Linked DNA regions of Homo sapiens. The protein of the gene in region 1 purifies or fractionates together with the protein of each later gene. This does not show direct contact. Each region holds a gene or a part of one and is shown on either strand. Other genes may lie near its edges.

The links.
Region 2: the proteins of NCKAP5 (region 1) and KIF3C purify together in Homo sapiens (affinity purification with mass spectrometry; one large-scale study listed by BioGRID and IntAct). This does not show direct contact.

The regions. Positions count from the first base shown.
Region 1 is NC_000002.12:133,565,664-133,569,742, reverse strand, and holds the start of NCKAP5 (nck-associated protein 5), read left to right. Parts: upstream 1-1,279; 5' UTR 1,280-1,527; intron 1,528-1,661; exon of another isoform or gene 1,662-1,799; intron 1,800-4,079.
Region 2 is NC_000002.12:25,975,998-25,979,497, forward strand, and holds part of KIF3C (kinesin-like protein KIF3C), read right to left. Parts: intron 1-3,500.

The DNA.
Region 1 (4,079 bases):
TGAGGAAATAATTTTCAGACATGCAATGAGCATCTGCTGGGGGTAGTGAGATGTGAGGTCATTGTTTTCCAAGGCCAGGGAGAGAGCTTAATCTAAACATACACTCCATGCCACAGAATCAGCTAACCTTGTTCCTGCCTCCACCCTCAATGCTCACCCCCCACCTCCCACATTTCTGTTTAGGATTCACTATGGCAAGTGATTTAGGTATAAACAAATAACACTTACAAGGCAGCCCTCAAAGACCTTTCAAACTGAGTTGGGGAGACAGAACACAGATGGCTAAAAAACAAACTAAAAATACTAGTCAGTATATAAAAAGCAGCAAGTAAATATAAATAGTAAGCATCGTTATAGCAGTCCAGAGGAAGGAAGGAAAACAGTGGGCTGGAGTGTTCGCGCTTCGTGGCAGAGACTAGGTGTTGGATCTGTGGAATTTCTCTAGGTGGGGGCTAGGGGTTGGAGGGGAGATAACTGTAAAAACTATAAGAACCAACGGACAGAAGAGAGATTCCATGAGAGAGTGGAAAATAGGGGAGAAAAGGCCCACTTTTATTTTGATAGTTGTGAGTGGGATTTACAGTGTTCTGTGAGATTATTAGAAAGACTTGGCACAGATTCTTATTTATTTGTTTTTTGGAGTGTCGGGGGTGGTGCAGGTGGGTGGTTAAAATTTTAAGAATCAGAAGAAAGCCTCCAGCACTCTTCTCAGGAAAAGAAAAATTGCATATTTGCAAATGCACACAAAATGTTGCTGTGATTTCAAGGATCCCTTCCTTCTACTCCAAGCTGAGACACTAGAATGTATCTAAAAGGAGTTGCACCCAAGACAATCTATCTAGGAAAAATGTCGGCCAGGTGTATATATCACAGTAAAAGTAATTAAGCAATGTAAGACACAACCAGTATTCATATATTCATGAATCATCAGGCTCTGAAGTTGACTCGAAACAGGTGGGTAAACAATTTGGTAGGGCTGTGCTGGCACTTCAAACTTTTCCTCCAGGTCTCCAGCTATTCCAGTGTAAGCTGGTGGAGGCGATTCTCTGTCTTTTTCAGACCTGAAAGAAGCCATCCTCTCAAAAATGTGAATCAATGGGATTATTTACGCATGTATAACTGGAATCCACTCCAAGATGCCGATTTTGCTGCAGAAGAGATACTCTTCCTCCCCACCCCCTCCTTTCTTTTTGACAGTCAGTTAATAAAGACTCAACAATAAGCAGCTGCCAGTGATGTCATTTGGGACTTTGTCCACGGAGCTTGTATTTACAAGCTCGAAGCAACTACGGAGCCGCAGCCCAGGGAGCAAGTCTCCGCAAACTTGCTCCGCATTCACGGCAGGACTTCCCAGCCGCTGTGGATGTTCAGGAAAACCGAGTCTGTTCTGTTAGCGTGGCCTTTGAATGCTTCAAAAATAAACAGAGGATAACCAACCGCGGGAGGAAATTTTTAGCTGGAGAGAGTTGTAGTTCCTGTGTCTGTCTCCAGGACTGTGATATGTGTTGACTGAAGAGCTAACTACAAGTAAGACTGTTGGGATTTTTTTTTTAAACTCTTGTAACAGTTTTTCTTATTTATACAGCTTGTTTTCCTTCTAAAGTGAGATGATGATGTTTACATATTTCTCCAGGCTCTTTCGGCTGTCACAGCAAGTATGCGTTTGTTCTAAGTAACTATAGGGCCCTAAAGTGGACTGGAATTAGGGGTAGAGGACCCCTTGTCTCTGAGAACAAATACCAGGATGCAGATGATAAGGAGATACTGAATGGCTAATCCTCATTTGCCTCTGCAGGGAGGTCAGGTTTGGTTTTTCATTTGTTTTGTTTTTGTTTTTTAAAGAGATACAACCAACCAAAAAACTATTAGGCTGATCTAGAAAGTTTAGCAGACAACTATGAAGGCTACTTTTTCATGAACTGGTACACTGCAGGGAGAACCCACTTTTTGTCTCTGATTCTTTCTGTGGTTTATGGATTTCTAGTGTGTGGATGTTGATGTTTATGGTCTCTCGTCCCCTCCTACCTACACTCTCTCCCCAAACACACACACACACACACACACACACACACACACACACACACAGGCTCATTCATCCTCAGGAATGTGTATGTATCAAAAAATATTTTGAAATTGAAACTGTTTCTATTTGGATTCTTTTCACATTGAGTATCTGGAGAAATGTTCAATGTTCTGACTTGTCTTCTGAGTTGGAACCCAAGTTAATGTACTACTGAAAAAGGCAAACTTTGACACTGAGCTAGATCGGTATACAAAATCCACATGTTCTCTTTTGCCTGCCTCAGGGCTCTTTAAAACTCTCCAGATATTCTCTGGGATTTAAATAGGAAGAGTGAGCTTCATGTATGCCGCCAGCCTGGACAGGAACCTCTTATCCCACCTGCACCGGCTGGCCCGTGAGCTATTCTCTGTTGCCACCCGGGAGTTCTGCTTAAGAGCCCAGTGAAAAATTGTCTTTCTGTCCTTCAAGCTACCAGCTCTGCTCCTCAGTGCCTGCAGTTCAGCCTCTTGCAACCAGTAGCAAATCCCAGCTGATTCCTGCCCTCTAGACCTGACAGCCCAGCCCGCTGCACGGATTGGCAAGAAGTGGCTGTTAGCCTGTTAGCTCCGCATGTGAACCCCATGACTCACTCAGGAGCCTGGCTTGCTCCTGAATTCAGCTGCTCTGTCACCAGCCCAGAAACATGGTGACAGCCTTCACTACCTTTTCCTTGTCTCTAGTCTCAGAATTGTGAGAAGCCAGTGTCAAAAGGCCTCAAAATATTTGACTGTTTTCCAGGGAGTCCTAAGGTGGGTAACATCCTGCCTCTTTGTCAGCTCCATTTTTTTCCATCAGAACACATTAGGCTTAGATATGTTTTGTGTATTAGAGCTCAGTGCTCTTTGCAATTCTTTGCTTAAAATAAGGGACTTGCTGCTAAAACAGATTTCAAACTATTCATCAAAGTTTATCCTTTCACAGAAGAAAACTTGGGGCACAAGGAAGAGAAGTGATTGTCCAAGAGCACCCAGTAAGATGGTGGCAAAGCTACAACTAGAAACTGAGCTTCCTGTGTTCATTCCAGCATGTGTCCCACTTCTCAAGTTCTTAAATATTGAAAAAGAAATGGGACCCACACGCGGTTCCTATGCCTTCTTGTAGGAACAGGGCTATGTGCAGGTGTACAGATGAAGGTGGTCTGGCAAAGAGAGAACATTCCCGTTTTGTCTTTGGCTCTCGTTACATTTCTTAAGGTGTCTGTTCCTCATTGTTTTCACTAGCAAACCAAAGAGAACTCTGTGATTATTTTACAGATAATGGCCTAAAAGCAAATGGAGCAGCCTCAGCAGTTGAAATAGTTCAGAAGGCATTTTGCACTGGGTACAGGCTGGGATACCTGAGGTGATTCCCAACTCTGATACTCAGTGTTTGTGCTTTACTTCCAAGTCTCAGACTTCTTCTTATGGCCACAGCTTGCTTTGCTTTTCCTCTTTTGGGCCCCTCTCTCCAGTGGAACCTTCTCTTCACTTTTTCATTGATTCCTCCTTCCCACTTCATTCTCTCACTGAAGCCTGGACCTCAGTTTCCAGTATTCAGCTAGATCGCATACACCCGTCCATTACCCTTCTCTCTGGAGCCTTCCTTGTCCCTGACATTCCTACCTAGGGGCGGGGGGCCTTCCTGGACTCTCCTGGTCCAAGTGGTGATTCACTTGTTTCGACTGTCATGGTATCTTGTGCCATTTTTTGCCCTGGGATCTGGAGCTCTTTGCCATGTTGTTAAATACCTCTTTCCGTCGAAAGCAAGGGCTGCTTGCTATATAATACTTCTTATAGCTACAGCACTAAGCACAGAGTAGTTATTCAATGTATTATGCTAAATAAATGAATGAATTAAATATCCATTTTCCTGTTGCAAACACCCAAGCCTCAGGACTTGGTTGGCAAAATTACCACATTACTGTGCTGATTGGCTTTAAATTCTTCTTCACTGTGGTTGAAGGCCCTTGATGCCAGACTTCTGACCATGAAGACGGGGATATTCTTGATGTGATGCCTGGCTGTCTTTCCTGGCTCAT
Region 2 (3,500 bases), about 110 Mb from region 1:
GTGCTCATGTGGAATAAACGAGATAATCTGTATATAGGATAGCACTTGGCACAAAGCAAGTGCTCAGTAAATGTCATTATTATTACTGTTACTGTTGTCGCTCAGGCTTGAAACATTCTCTCTTGCATTTATGGTTAATCCCCCTGCTGAGGGGTGGGAGAAAGCAGGACCCACAAAAGGGACAATACAATTTCAACACAGTTCGCATTCCTCCTTATGACCGCATCCCTCTGGCTTCCGGGGCTGCTTCTGCAGGTTCTCTTTTCTACATTCACCACAGAGAGAGTGGGCTCCAGCCAAGAACCCCAGCTCTTCTCCCTCCAGACCTTCTTATTGGGGATCACATCCGATGCTGTTGTTTCTGTCTTCAATTCGTGCCTGCATTCTGTATCATCTGTACACAAACACTCTTTTTTTCCTTTAAGTAGCTAAAATCAAAGTTTTAGGAATCATCTAGTCCAACTCCTTGAAAAAATTAACTAAGCCAGATGCAGTGGCTCATGCCTGTAATCCCAGCACTTTGGAAGGCTGAGGTGGGCAAATCACAAGGTCAGGAGATCGAGACCAGCCTTGCCAACCTCATGAAACCCCGTCTCTACTAAAAATACAAAAAATTAGCTGGGCATGGTGGTGGGCACCTGTAATCCCAGCTACTAGGGAGGATGAGGCAGGAGAATCCCTTGAACCCGGGAGGCAGGGTTGCAATGAGCTGAGATCGTGCCATTGCACTCCAGCCTCAGCAACAAGAACGAAACTCCATCTCAAAAAAAAAGTTAATTTCAAAATTAAAGCAGTCATTTAAAAATTGTCTTGCATGATTACATTTGAATAAAGTAGGCCTTCTCCCAACCAATCTACGTGTGTTCACCTGTCCTCACTGCAGTATGTATACTGCGCACAAATATTTGGGTTTTCACTGCGCAGTACCAAATATTTGAAGTTTTCACTGTGCATTGTGGGTCTGTGATGTTACCTATTCCTCCTACCTCACAGGCCTAGTATGTTATCAAGCTCCCACCAGCATTTCCCGCCCACACCCTCCCTCCCCCAGACACTACATAAGTATAAATTGCTAATGATTACTGATAAACAGGACACTGATCACAATCACAAACTCTCACACATTTGCACACCCGAACATCCCCTGAGGCCCACAGTAAACATGAAAGGAGGGATGAAATGAGATTCCAAGGAGACAGGCATGGTGTTTGTGCACAGTGAGGGGAGAACAAAGAGAACAGGGAGCCTGGGAGGTGGCAGGCAGGGAGAGCTGGCGAGACAGACTATGAGATGAGTCAGAGAGAGTGAATGAGGGCACTGGGTCGCATCAACTACCACTTAGCTGCCCCCAGAGGGTGGCATGAACTGGAAGAAGGGAATGGGAGCTGGTCAGGGAAGAAGCGGAGTTGATGCCATAACTCAGAAAGGGGGGACAGGAGTGAGCTGCAGATGGGGAGCCTGCCTTCTGAAATCTCCTAGACCTCTCCTGCCTGGCTCTACTCCCAGCAAGCTGCAGGGTTATGGCAAGGCAGCTGGGATGGCAGGGTAAAGAAGAAGTCAAGCTAACAACAAAGATGTCTGTCCTGGAGATCACTGGACCCCAGCTTGGTGGACAGAAGCCACCCCATAGCTGCTAATGCCTTCCATGTATTTGGTGCTTTCAACTTATTTTAAATGCCCTCGTGCTAATGATCTCATTTAATCCTCAACCCTGGGAAATAGGCAGGACTGGGGTTGGTATCTCTAACATGCTCCTCCCCTCTTTACCCTGTAGATTCCTCAAGAGCCCTCAAATTGTTTCCACCAGCCTAGAAACATCCGACACTGAACCAGGCGGTGCCTTGGGGCTATGGGGAACTTGGGTCCTCTGTCTAGGTTCCATTTTGGGTTGCTGGCTGCTGATTGTCCTAGGCTGAGTGTGATGAGAAGTCACAGGGTATGGAATCATTCCTGTTGTGGAATTTCCCAGGCACTCCTCCCCCTTTGCTTCCATCTGAACACCTGGTACATAGTGACTGTTTCACCCACTCCCCAGGGAGCAAGGTCAGGCTTCTCCTCCTCATTAGGTGAATGGAAGCCTGAGGGCTGGAGAGGGAAAGGCGGTTGCCCTGAGTCACACAGTGAGCAAACATGGAGGAATCTGAGATGCCTTGGAAAGAGCACAGGGCTGGGGGCATCAGAAGACCTGGGTTCCAGTCCTGGCTCTGCTGCCTATCACCCAGGGTCACGAGCTGATAAGACACTCACTCCACCTCCCCAGCCTTAGTTTTCATAACTGTTGAATGGAAATAATAGTACCCACCCCTTGGGGTTGTTGGGAGGATCGAATGAGATTAAGATGTCAACGCCTTATATAAAAATGAATTACTCTGATTATCAAGTAGCACAGGTAACATTAGGACTCAAGCAGTGGAAAGAGGCTGGGCTCTTCCATATATAAAGGGGCTAGGCTCTCCTCAACTCACCTGTGTGGCCCTGGGCAAGTCCAGGTCTCAGTTTTCCAAAGCTCCTGCCAACTCTAAGACTGTGATATTTTGTGGGCTATGCCTCTGGTGCAAGAATTCTGGTGCTGGCCGCCCTGATCTCTTGGCCGTTCTATCATCTGTGCCCCATACTGCCTTAGATCCAAGGATCTCACTGAGGGAAACTGGTCAGTTCCCAACAACGGAAACCTTCACCCCATCCCTCAGGCAGCCGAAGTGTGTTATTGCATTTTCCTCCCTTCTTAGCCTTTGTTGCCTTCCAGCTTTCAGGGAGGTGGGGGGTCTTCTTAGCAAAATCAATGGCAGATTGACCAGGTAAGCAAACACTGGATTCCCTCCCTCCTAGGGAGGGCTTCAATCTAACGGCCCTGCCTCTAATATCTTGCTTCTCTCAGGATGTCCCTAAAGGTTCCAGGCCCCTGATCCTTTCCTTGAGGAAACAGCTCAGCATAACTCTTCCTGGGCTCAAAGAAGTGAATTAAATATTAAATATGTAAGGCCAGAGCCCCTGCTGCAGCAGCACATTCCCAAAACAGACAATGGCATACAGCTCATCTGTCACTCTCCCAGTGGCTGTAGGCTGGGCCCCCCTGCTCCCCAGCCCACATTCCTGAGAAGGAATAAGAAATGGCAATATTTTGCTCTTCCCAGCAAGCTCATGGCTTCCTGTGTCCTTCCTTCCACCCCTAGTGTTGAAGGCTCCAGGGGCCTGGAAATGCCTGGAACATTGAGTTGTGGCATCCTCAGCAATGCAACTTAATAGGTCTATGACTGGACAGGGAGGGGCCTCTGTAGTTAGCCCCATTAGAGCCTGGAAGGTCCCGGGGGTGAGGAAACAGCTCAGGAAGGATGCTGAGGTCCTGACATCTCTCAGGGTTATGGGGAATTGGATATTAACTGTGATGAGGCCTCGGGGCAGGGGTCGGTTGGCTTGCTGCTCAGATTAATATAGGCCATAGAATTATCAGATAGGTAGAGCCTCAGAGATCACCCAGGCCAACCCTCTATTTTACAGAA